2 separate regions of the Homo sapiens genome follow, and region 2 is linked to region 1. The links come from fine-mapping of genetic effects on gene expression. A gene starts in region 1. The other region holds a variant in brackets. All regions are shown on one strand. Distances are between the middles of the regions.

Evidence for each region. PIP is the estimated chance that this variant, and not a neighbour inherited with it, causes the effect.
Region 2: its variant is fine-mapped to the expression of LIPE-AS1 in whole blood (TOPMed, PIP 0.99).

What each region holds. Positions count from the first base shown.
Region 1 is chr19:42,394,956-42,400,203 of GRCh38, forward strand. It overlaps LIPE-AS1 (LIPE antisense RNA 1), which reads left to right and starts at 2,193. Exons shown (of 3, transcript NR_073180.1): 1 at 2,193-2,269. It overlaps LOC101930071 (a long non-coding RNA gene), which reads left to right and starts at 2,173. Exons shown (of 2, transcript NR_126041.1): 1 at 2,173-2,269. RefSeq lists enhancers at 1,720-1,859, 1,880-2,039, 1,894-2,577, 2,578-3,261.
Region 2 is chr19:42,520,613-42,526,097 of GRCh38, forward strand. CEACAM1 (CEA cell adhesion molecule 1) reads right to left here. Exons shown (of 9, transcript NM_001712.5): 3 at 1,312-1,590; 4 at 655-909. The region is part of intron 2 of LIPE-AS1 (LIPE antisense RNA 1); the gene reads left to right. It overlaps LOC105372407 (a long non-coding RNA gene), which reads left to right and starts at 2,146. Exons shown (of 2, transcript XR_935974.3): 1 at 2,146-2,753; 2 at 5,006-5,257. The variant C/T (reference allele first, on the strand shown) is at 3,055.

The DNA.
Region 1 (5,248 bases):
TCTTTGCTCATGGTCCTCCTGGTAGGAGCTGGATGAGTGGCCTCTCAGTGACTGGCCATGTAACTGCATCGCTGGGGTGTCTGTTTTGCATGTGGAATAGGATATTTCTTGTGTGCTGTGATCACGGGCGATTCTGTGGTTGTGTGCCTATATTTGTGTTTGTGCTTGTAGGTGATTATATTGCTGCATGTGTGTGATTCTTTGTGTGGGTGCAAATGCAAGATCAAATCTAACACAAATTGTGATGGCACGTGTTTGGTGTGATCTTGCATTTCTGATTCTGAGGTGCTGGGAGTGTGTCTATAATTGGAATCTTGAGAACCCTTCTCTCAGCTGTGAGGCCACTCCCTTACATAACATCCCATAGGTGACCCCTGGGAGAGATCCTTCCAAGATGAGCCTTGGTTTCTCCCTAATGGGGATAGTGGGCCCAGTGGCTCAAGGAGAAACAGGAGATTGAAAGGGAAGGTGGGAGGGGACCAGTGAGGCCAGGGAGAGGGTAAGAGACGTGATGGTGACACAGAAAAACGATGGCTGGATTGGGACAGAGGAAGAGCTGCCCAGAGACGGGGATCTCTGTCCATTCATTCCATGAGCATTTCCTGAGCCCCTGCAATGTGCCAGGACCTCTGGTCGGTTCAGGGTCTGGGGGAAAGCAGAGAGACCCAGAGAGATGACCCCCACCAGGAAAGCTGTTGCTGCCCCAAGGTGGCCCACTGCCTCCACAATGGGCCTCAGTGACAGTTCTGAGTGACCGAGATGCAGTGATGGGGAGGGACAGAGAAGGCCAGATCTGTCCAGATCAAAGAACAGAGGCCATGGGGGAAAGGTCCCTTCCAGGCGAAGGAGACCGCCATGAATCATGTTCTTATCACCTCCTAATAGGCTCATGATGCAAGTGCACCTCCTAATCACTATTTTCGACCCCAACCAGGCTCACGCCCACAGTCAGAAGGGTTGGACAAGCTTAGTATCGTGGATTCACGGGAGAAAATATCTGGGAGACCCCATCCTTGGACCTGCTTTCCCCAGGACCCAGGAGTCCGGGTCCCCAGCTCTCCAGTTCCCCAGCCCCAGGAGTCCCAGCTCTCAGCCCCTCTCCTTTTGTTTGTTGCCTGCGTTTTCTTTTTTCTCTCTGGGCCTGTAACTCTTTGTTTATCTCCATCTATGTTTTGTGTCTCTCTTGTATCTTTACATCTGTATCTGGATTCTCCCTCACTAGGCCTCAATTTTCTCACTTGTAAACTGGGGATAATACTACTAATAATAATCCAATCTCTCAGAGCTGTGGCGAGGAAGACATGAGATAATTATGTAAAATGCTCAGCACAGAACCAGGCCACAGTAAACTCAGTACAAGAGAGCTCTGTTATTATTACTGTTTTATTTTTGCCATCTCCCCTTTGGTATCTCTATTTTTCTCTTAGTCTCACGTGAGTCTCCAGTCTCCTCTAGCTCTGGGTTCCTTTTGCAGACAGCACCTGCCTCTGACTTCCCTTTTCGGGATGAGGAAAGGGCATATCCAGGCCAGAGCTTCCCCTGAGCCTCTTCCTTCTCCCTCTCCATTACAAGCTCCGCCTCATTACCCAGAACACTTGCCTGGGGGTAAGGCCTGGCTCCCTTCCCATAAATAGCCTCATAAAATCCTGAACCCCAAACCTGTCATCCCTGGGCGGGCGAGTGACTCAAGATCCCGGAGTTCCCGCTCCTAGACACCAAACCTTCAGGTTTCCAGCCCCCTCCTCCCTCTGACCCAGGAGTCCGGGCCCCTAGTCCCTCCTTCCTCGGGTCCCAGACTTCTCCTCCTTCAGAACCAAGGAGTCTGAACTCTCAAATCCCCAACCTTCCTCAAGACCCAAGGATCGGGTCAGCAAACAGCCTAGGTATGTGGGGCCAGAAACTCCATTCACGACCATTCTGCGACCGTCTACGCCCAGGGCTCCCACCCCGACTCAGTCCCTCCGGAGGCGGGTCCGACACGCGAGGCGCTTCTTTGGAGTCTGGCGGCGAAAGCTATCCATGACGTCAGTCACTATCTTCCAGCCAATGGACACTCGGCCTTCTACCTCCCTGGGCCACTCAGGACCCTTTGCCTGGTAGGCGGGGCCCACAGCCCAACTCGGGCAGCGATAGGCTTTCGGAGACGCCAGTCTCTGCCAGGCCCAGTCAGTCGGCCAATAGACCCGGAACCTGAGGGATCGGAATCCTGGTCCACTCCGCAGAGGCCCGAGCGGGCTCGCGAGGGAACGGGTTCTCCGAGTCTGGCCGGGTAAGCCCTTTCCAGCACGCCTAGTATTAGGATTCTGCACATAGCTCGGGTGGAAAACCGTGAGGCTTAGTGAGGCTTGAGGCGGAGGGGGGAGGAGCTCAGTCCCGGCGAACCCATCTTGCTTTCTTGGAGAAACTGAGACCGGGATACTGGATCTGTTATTCATCCATCCGTTCCTCCCACCCTAAGCCTGATTCTCGTCTGCTCCTGCCTTCCTGTTCCTTCATCCGTTCTGCCCTTCCTGCCCTCAATTCTCTCACTCACGGATTCCCTCGTCTAGCCACTCACTCACACACTCTCCCACCTATTAGTTAGACAAACATTTCCTGAGGCTTCTGGTGTGCCAAGCCTCGTGCTGGGCGATGCTGGTGACCAAGATGAGTCAGGCCTGGGCCGTGCCCTCAAGGAGCCCGGGTCAGATGGGAGGATGGACGTTGATGGGCATGGGTGTGCGGAGACGGTGGGAGCCCAGGAGAGACTTTTTTGAGTTTGGCGTGGTCGGGAAAGGGTTTCCAGGGGAGGGGCCATTGGAGCTGGATCTTGGAGGAGCAGAAGGTGCCAGGCAAAGTGGAGATGCCAGGCAAAATGGGTGTGGGGAGGGTGTTTCAGCGTGACCAAAGACAGGGAGGCATGCAGGAGCAGTACTGCGTGCAGGTGCCTAAGCGGAAGGCCAGTCAAGTCTGTATGGCCAGCAGGGGAACTGTAAGGCTGGAGGAGGCCGAAGAGATGAGCAGAGGCCAGGCTGAGGAGCTTGGACTTTGTCCTGAGGGTGAGGGGGTAGTGGAGAGCCATGGAAGGGTTGAGAGTAGTGGAGGACAAGGTCATAGTTGGTCCAGAACTGGAGGAATGAGACTGGAAGCCAGTAGCCCAGGAGGTGGCTCTGGCAGGGATTCAGGTAGGAGAGAGTGGAGCCTGGATCAGGGAAGAGGCCGAGGGGATAAGATAGAGATTCAGGAGGCAAGGCTTGGTGCTGTGGCTCGTGTCTGTAATCCCAGCACTTTGGAAAGTTGAGGCGGGAAGATCACTTGAGCCAAGGAGTTCAAGACCAGCCTGGGCAACATAGTGACAGCCTCATCTCTACAAAAAATTAGCCAGGTGTGGCCAGGCGCGGTGACTCACTCCTGTAGTCCCAGCACTTTGGGAGGCCGAGGCGGGTGGATCACGAGGTCAGGAGTTCAAGACCAGCCTGGCCAAGATGGTGAAACCCTGTCTTTACTAAAAATGCAAAAAATTAGACAGGCTTGGTGGTGGGCACCTGTAATCCCAGCTACTCGGGAGGCTAAGGCAGAAAATTGCTTGAACCCAGGACGGGGAGGTTGCAGTGAGCTGAGATCGCGCCACTGCACCCCAGCCTGGGCCACAGAGTGAGACTCAAAATAAAAAAAAAAAAAAGAAAAATTAGCCAGGTGTGGTGGTGCATGCCTATGGTCCAAGCTACTGAGGAGGCTGAAGCAGGAGGATCACTTGAGCCCGGGAAGTCGAGGCTGCAGTGAGCCAAGATGGTGCCACTGCACTCCAACCTGCACAAGAGTGAGACCTTATCTCAAAAAAAAAAAAAAAAAAAAAGAAAGAAAGAAAAATAAATAAGGAGATTCAGGAGGCAGAGAGAACAGAAAGTGGGGATTGATGGGCTATGGGACAAGGGGTTGTCCAGCATGAGACCCAGAGCTCTAGTCTGGAGGACAGTGGAGCCATCTCTGAGGTGGGGACAGGAAAAGAGGAGCAGGTTGATGGGTAGTGACTGTTTTGACAGAGGTGACCAAGGGGTTCTATGAGTTGGACAAGGAGAGTGGTGACTCAGGCCAGTGGATCTGGACCTTCAGGAAGAGTTCTGGGCTACAGCTCCCTGCCCCAGCACAGGCCCTGACTCAGAAGTCACTTGCTGGGTGAACGAGGACCTCTGAGCTGAGGATCCCTTGCTTCGCACCCCGTGAGGAAACGGCTTTCTTGTTTCTGCATCTTCAGTCTCTCCCACTCCTCCAGCATTCAAACATGTCCATCATCTCTAAACACATGTGCCCTGTATCAGGCTCTCTTGTGGCGCCCACTGGCTCAATCCCTTACCTTCCACTCCCTCTTCAACCCACTATGTCTGGCTGCCTAACGGCCATGACCCTGCAGTGGCTCTGGACAAGGTCACTGAGGTCACCTGCTCATTGCTGACACCTGAGGGTAACATTTCAATCCTCATCTGACCTGGTCCACTCCCTGAAACTCCCTTCACCCTACATCCTCCTTCCTGGGCAGCTTCCTCCCTCTCTGGCTGCTCCTTAGAACCCGCCAGCCTTGCCTTCCACTGCCCACCCCCGCCCACCCCTTTACTAGGGGTGTGATCCTCAGGGCTGTCTCTGTCCTGGCCCTCTTGTTGCTTGTCCCACCTGCCCAGGCTTCCTGGAAAGGTTCTAGTCCCTTGGTTCCACCTAGACTGCATTTTTTTTTTTTTTTGAGGCAGAGTCTCATTCTATTGCCCAGACTGGAGTGCAGTGGTGCAGTCTCGGCCGACTGCAACTTCTGCCTTCCAGGTTCAAGCGATTCTCTTGCCTCAGCCTCTCAGTTAGTTGGGATTACAGGCGTGCACCACCACACCTGGCTAATTTTTGTATTTTTAGTAGAGACAGTGTTTCACCATGTTGGCTGGGCTAGTCTTGAACTCCTGACCTCAGGTGATCCACCCGCCTCAGCCTCCCAAAGTGCTGGGATTACAGGTGTGAGCCACCACACCCAGCCCCAGACTGCACTTCTGACCCTTGTTGTCTCCTGGATTGTCTTCCTGAGACCTTCCAGCTCACCATGTCCAGAATGGCCCTCCACAGGTCCCACCTGTCACACACACACCTGAGCCTCCTCCCATTGAAGAGACAGCTTCACTGTCCACCTGCTTCCATGGCCAGACCTGGGTGTCATCTCTGTCCCCTTGCTGTCCTGTAACCTCATCAGTAGGTGCTGTCCTTCCCACCTTTTATGGCTCTGGGATGCTAC
Region 2 (5,485 bases), 130 kb after region 1:
TCTCACCTCGGCCTTCCAAAGTACTGGGATCACAGGCATGAACCACAGCGCCCAGCCATTGACTGCCATCTTGATTTAGCTGGATTCATGACAGGCCACCTGGACACCTTCTGCACACACCTGCGTCCTACCCCACATGGGGTCAGGGCAGAGCCAATCACCGGGCAAGCCGGGAGTAGAGCAGGGAGCAGAGTCTGAGCTGCTCATCCCTGATGAAGGGCATTTCCTTCTCTCATTTAGGGAAAACTATTGTGAGTCTGTTTTAAAACCTCACATATTCCTTATATCTCATGGAATAGGTAAAAGAAGGCCAAGAAGTTACAGAAAGGGACATGTTAGTGACAGAAGCAAATTGACCTTGAGGACCCTTTCTGCTTCCCCCTCTGTGAAGCCCCTCCTGCTACACGGGGCTTTCTGGGGCTGAGAGAACCCCCTCCCCACATTCCAGGCTGGACCTAAGGTCAGCTGTGAGAAATCAGAAAAACAAAGGGAAGAGAGTCTGCACAGATGAATTGAGAGGGTTCAGGGGAGAATTTGGACTTGTTTGTGCCTGTTGGATACAGGCTGCAAAAGAAAATTTCTTCTCTGCTCCTATTTGAAAACCAGAAAGCTTGTACCCCAGATCTTAGTGTTGATGCTCCAGGAATTACTTACCAGTGACTATGATCGTCTTGACTGTGGTCCTGTTGCAGCCAGTGACTGAGTTATTGGCGTGGCAGGTATAGGATCCACTATTATTCACAGTGATGTTAGGGATAAAGAGCTCTTGTGTGCTTTGCTGGAATGTTCCATTGATAAGCCAGGAGTACTGTGCAGGTGGGTTAGAGGCTGCATAGCAGGAGAGGCTGAGGTTTGCCCCTGGACGGTAATAGGTGTCTGAAGGGGAAATGGTGGGGGTGTCCGGGCCATCTGGAGCAAAGAGAATAAAGCCACAGGTGATGTCATCAGAGGGAAGGGGAAGCTGCTGGTCTGGAGAAGGGCCACAGTGTTCCTCTCTACTAAGTCACAACCCTGAAGTCCTAACCAAACCTCCATTGTGTCCACTGAGTCTGGGTCTGAGACATTCACCTGTTTCTCCCATCACAGGCTGTGGACCCTGAGCCTCCCAGGACAGGAGCAGCCTCTCCCCTCCTATTCTTGGTTCAGGCTGGGGCTGCCCAGGTTTGCCTGGGGAAAGGAAGTCATGGCCAGCCTGGGTGTCCAGGGTTAAGGGTCTGCGTCCTTAGACCTGAGAGGGACTGAGAGGCCTGGCCTCTGGCTGCGTGGATTTGGGCTGGCAGCCTGGGCCACAGAGGAACAGAAGATACTCACAGGTGACATTCAAGGTGACTGGGTCACTGCGGTTCGCACTCACTGGGTTCTGTATTTCACACTCATAGGGTCCTGTGTCATTCCTTGTGACACTGAGTAGAGTGAGGGTCCTGTTGCCATTGGACAGCTGCAGCCTGGGACTGACCGGGAGGCTCTGATTGTTTATCCACCACAGGTAGGTTGTGTCCTGAGTCTCAGGTTCACAGGTGAAGGCCACAGCATCCTTGTCCTCCACAGGGTTGGAGTTGTTGCTGGAGATGGAGGGCTTGGGCAGCTCCGCTATGCAGAAAACAGAGAGAAGATTGCCCTGTGTGGCACCTTTGATTCCTCCACAGGCATTTTTCTTTTCTTATTTATTTATTTTTTTTGGAGATGGAGCCTCGCTCTGTCACCCAGGCTGGAGTGCAATGGCACGATCTCGGCTCACTGCAACCTCCACCTCCTGGATTCAAGCAATTCTCCTGCCTCAGCTTCCTGAGTAGCTGGGATTACAGGCACATGCCACCATGCCTGACGGGGTTTCACCGTGTTGCCCAGGCTGGTCTCAAACTCCTGAGCTCTGGCAATCCGCCCGATTCGGCCTCTCAAAGTGCTGGGATTACAGGCCTGAGCCACCGTGCCTGGCTGGGCATTTTTCTTTCTTTCTTTTTTTTTTTGAGACAGAGTCTCGCTTTGTTGCTGAGGCTGGGGTGCAGTGGCACGATCTTGGCTCACTGCAACCTCTTCCTCCCGGGTTCAAGCGATTCTCCTGCCTCAGCCTCCTGAGTAGCTGGGACTACAGGTGCATGCCACCATGCCCGGCTAGTTTTTTGTATTTTAGCCAGGATGGTCACTGTTAGCCAGGATGGTCTCGACCTCCTGACCTCGTGATCTGCCCGCCTCGGCCTCCCAAAGTGCTGGGATTCCGTCCGGGCATTTTTCAATCAGAGTTGGCATCTCCCCACCTCTCAGCCAACCCAAGTCCCTAAAAGCCCATGGCAAGTGTGTGTTTCACAAGACAGATGTGCAATGATCTGAGGGCTCAGAGACCGTGAGGCCGCCTGCTCTGTGTGAGAGAAGCACAGACTTTCTCAAGTGTGAACTGAGCAGCAGTGTTGGGTCGTGGACAGACCGAGGACTGGGAGTCACAGCCCCAGGCACTTCTGGTCCTTCCCTGACTGGCTGATGCCTGCCTGACCCACCTGTGGGTCCTCACCTGGAACATACAGGTGCTGGGTCCCTTCCAGCTTCACAGTCCTACTTTGCCCCACTAGGTGTGTTTTCTCTGCAGCTTCCCTGTCTGAGGACATCCTAGAGATGGGTGATGATGGGACTTCCTATTGTCCTTAAACCCTGAGGATACTGAGCAGCCTGGCCTGGGACTGTATGTTTCAGCAGAAATAACAGGGGACACCAGGGGCAAGCCTGAAGGTAGCTCAGTCGTCAGGCAGCAGAACCACAAGGTGGGGCAGTTTTTCCCAGGTGTTTGATGATGACTGACTTGAGCCAGTGACCCCCTAAAGATAGAGCAGAGTCCAAGGAATGATCTAGAAAAGAGTGAGGGTGACAGGCAGGGGCTGCCTGGATTTAACAGCATATCTACGTTCCTTGTCTTTGGTCTTTAATGTCCCTTTTCCCCCTGAAAAGAGCAGATGATGACACTGTGGATCTTTTCTGAAATATGTGGGTTTTTTGCAAATGCAGAATAACCAGCTAGTGGAACGGAAGGAGCATGAACTTGCTGAAAGCCTGACCCTCATGGAC[C/T]GTGTGTGTTTGGTAGATCTGGGATATAAATTTGAGAAGTTAAATTATTCCATTTGTGAAAATTGTTATTAATACTCTGGATCTAACACCAATTAATAAGAGGAATATTCTCTAGAGAGCGTGATAAACTCTTAAACCAAGCTCTGAAGTCCAGTAGGATCATGTTATGATCAAAGAAAGATGCTGAAGTCAGTTTGAAATCAGTGACTCCCTGGGTAGAAGGGACTCATGGGTCCTGTTAGGAAGACAGAACTTGTCAGAAAGGATATCTGAGAGTTCTCAATTGCATTAAGAGAGAAACGATGCCATATGAGGAGAAGTGATGTATGTTATGTTAGTAAATTTAGAAAGAGTTCTATGTTACAAATTCCTGTGGAAATTCAGGTAAAAAGAGGAACCCAAAACAGTCATGTGAAATGCTTTCTTCCTTTTCTCTCAACCTCAGGAAACACAACTAGAGTTTGACCAAATTCATCCAAATTGGGCAGAGTCTAAGTGAGACACCAGTGGCTAATGCATCTCCCTGTCTGAGAGATCCCACCTTATGACAATGGTGTCATCATGAGGACACAGGTGTAGGTGGAATGGGCAGCAAACCCATCAGACAGCACCTGCCTGGCTAGCTCTACCTGGGGAAGGTCCCAGGAACCACTAGAGGATGTGAGCCCACAGCAGAACAGGGATGGAGTTAGGAGTCAAATGGGTGAAATGAGCCCATGGGCTTTGGGGACTGCAGACCTGTCCTTCTGCCTCTGATCCCCTGGTGAGTCAGTATAGAGAGTGTATGGAGGAGTCGCTCGTCCCTGTCCCCTGGCCTGTTCCACATGTCAGCCTCACTGAGGGACGTGGGGACAGTGGCTTATGATGGACCTGGCAGGGGTGGCTGCTCTGGGCTCATTTCTGTGCCTTTCCTATTGCCTGGGAGGTGGGCCTGGCCACAGTGTGAGCGGGAAGGGAACAGGACAGTCAACCTTGTTAGACGGAGTGTCTGGGAAAGGCCTAAGGGTGGAGGAAACTGTGCAGTTCAGCTGGGATAAAAGGAGAGGAAAATGAGGACATGGAGGAGCAGAGAGAGTCAGAGATGCCCATGACAGTGAGCAGTGGGGGCTAAGTGACCTTAGAGACCCCAGCAACCAGGAGCCTCTGGTGTCCCAGAACCAAGACCAGGGAGCCCTGAAAACCTTCCCACAGCCGAGCAGCCCCAGAGTCACATGAAATATGGTACTTGGGGTGGCTTTAGGGGTAGATGGTCAGGGGATGGAACATGGGTCTCAGTCTCTGGAGGGATGGGGAGCAGGTATGGCAAGAACCTCCCAGGATTCTGCAACCAGATCCAGTCTCTAAAGAGGTTATGGATCATTCAATCATTCATTCATTCGTGAGAGAACTACTGAGTGTGTGTTTCATATTGGGCCCTGGCTGGTGCAGGGTGTGAGTGAGGAGAGAAAGCAAAGTCCTTTCCTTTATCCTCCTGTGGGAGTGACACCAACACATCAGGAAACACAGGATTTCAAGTCCAGGGAGCAGAGGTGTGGGTCTGAGGGGATAGGCCTGAACATTTTTTTTTTTTTTTTTTGAGATAGAGTCTCACTCTGTCTCCCAGGCTGGAGCACAGTGACATGATCTTGGCTCACTGCAACCTCTGCCTCCTGGGTTCAAGCGATTCTACCACCTCAGCATCCCAAGTAGCTGGGATTAGAGGCACGCACCACCATGCCCGACTAATTTTTTTTGTATTTTTAGTAGAGATGGGGTTTCACCATGTTGGCCAGGCTGGTCTTGAACTCCTGACCTCAAGTGATCCGCCCACCTTGGCATCCCAAAGTGCTGGGATTACAGGTGTGAGCCACCACACCTGACCCAGGCCTGAACATTTCTGACACTGACTCTAATTGTTGAATAAGTTCCAGAATAAAACTTGGTTAATTCTCCATTTGATCTCACTCCCCAGACCAGGATCTCCCCTCTGGGCTGCAGATGCCTAAGAAGAAAGGAACTGAACCAACTCTGGTATTGGGGTCCACAGATGCCAAATAAGGCCCCTGGAGTAGAGGAGAGGTTAAGACTGTGGCTGAAGACAAATCTCCTGTAACTGATCTTCCAGTTACGGTCTGTGTGACCTTGATATAGTGACTGTATTTATTGCCATGTGGCTCAGTTTCCCCTCAGTGAAATAGTATAAATGGTTAATGGTTTTGGCTTATCTTGTGGTCTGTGAATTAACCTTAAAATATTTATAATTATTTGACCTCAGCTCTGCATAGGGGAGCTGCCCAAATAAACAATCTTATTTTATTTTATTTTTTTGAGATGGAGTCTCGCTCTGTCACCCAGGCTAGGGTGCAGTGGTGTGATCTTGGCTCACTGCAACCTCTGCCTCCCAGGTTCAAGCAATTCTCCTGCCTCAGCCTCCTGAGTAGCTGGGATTACA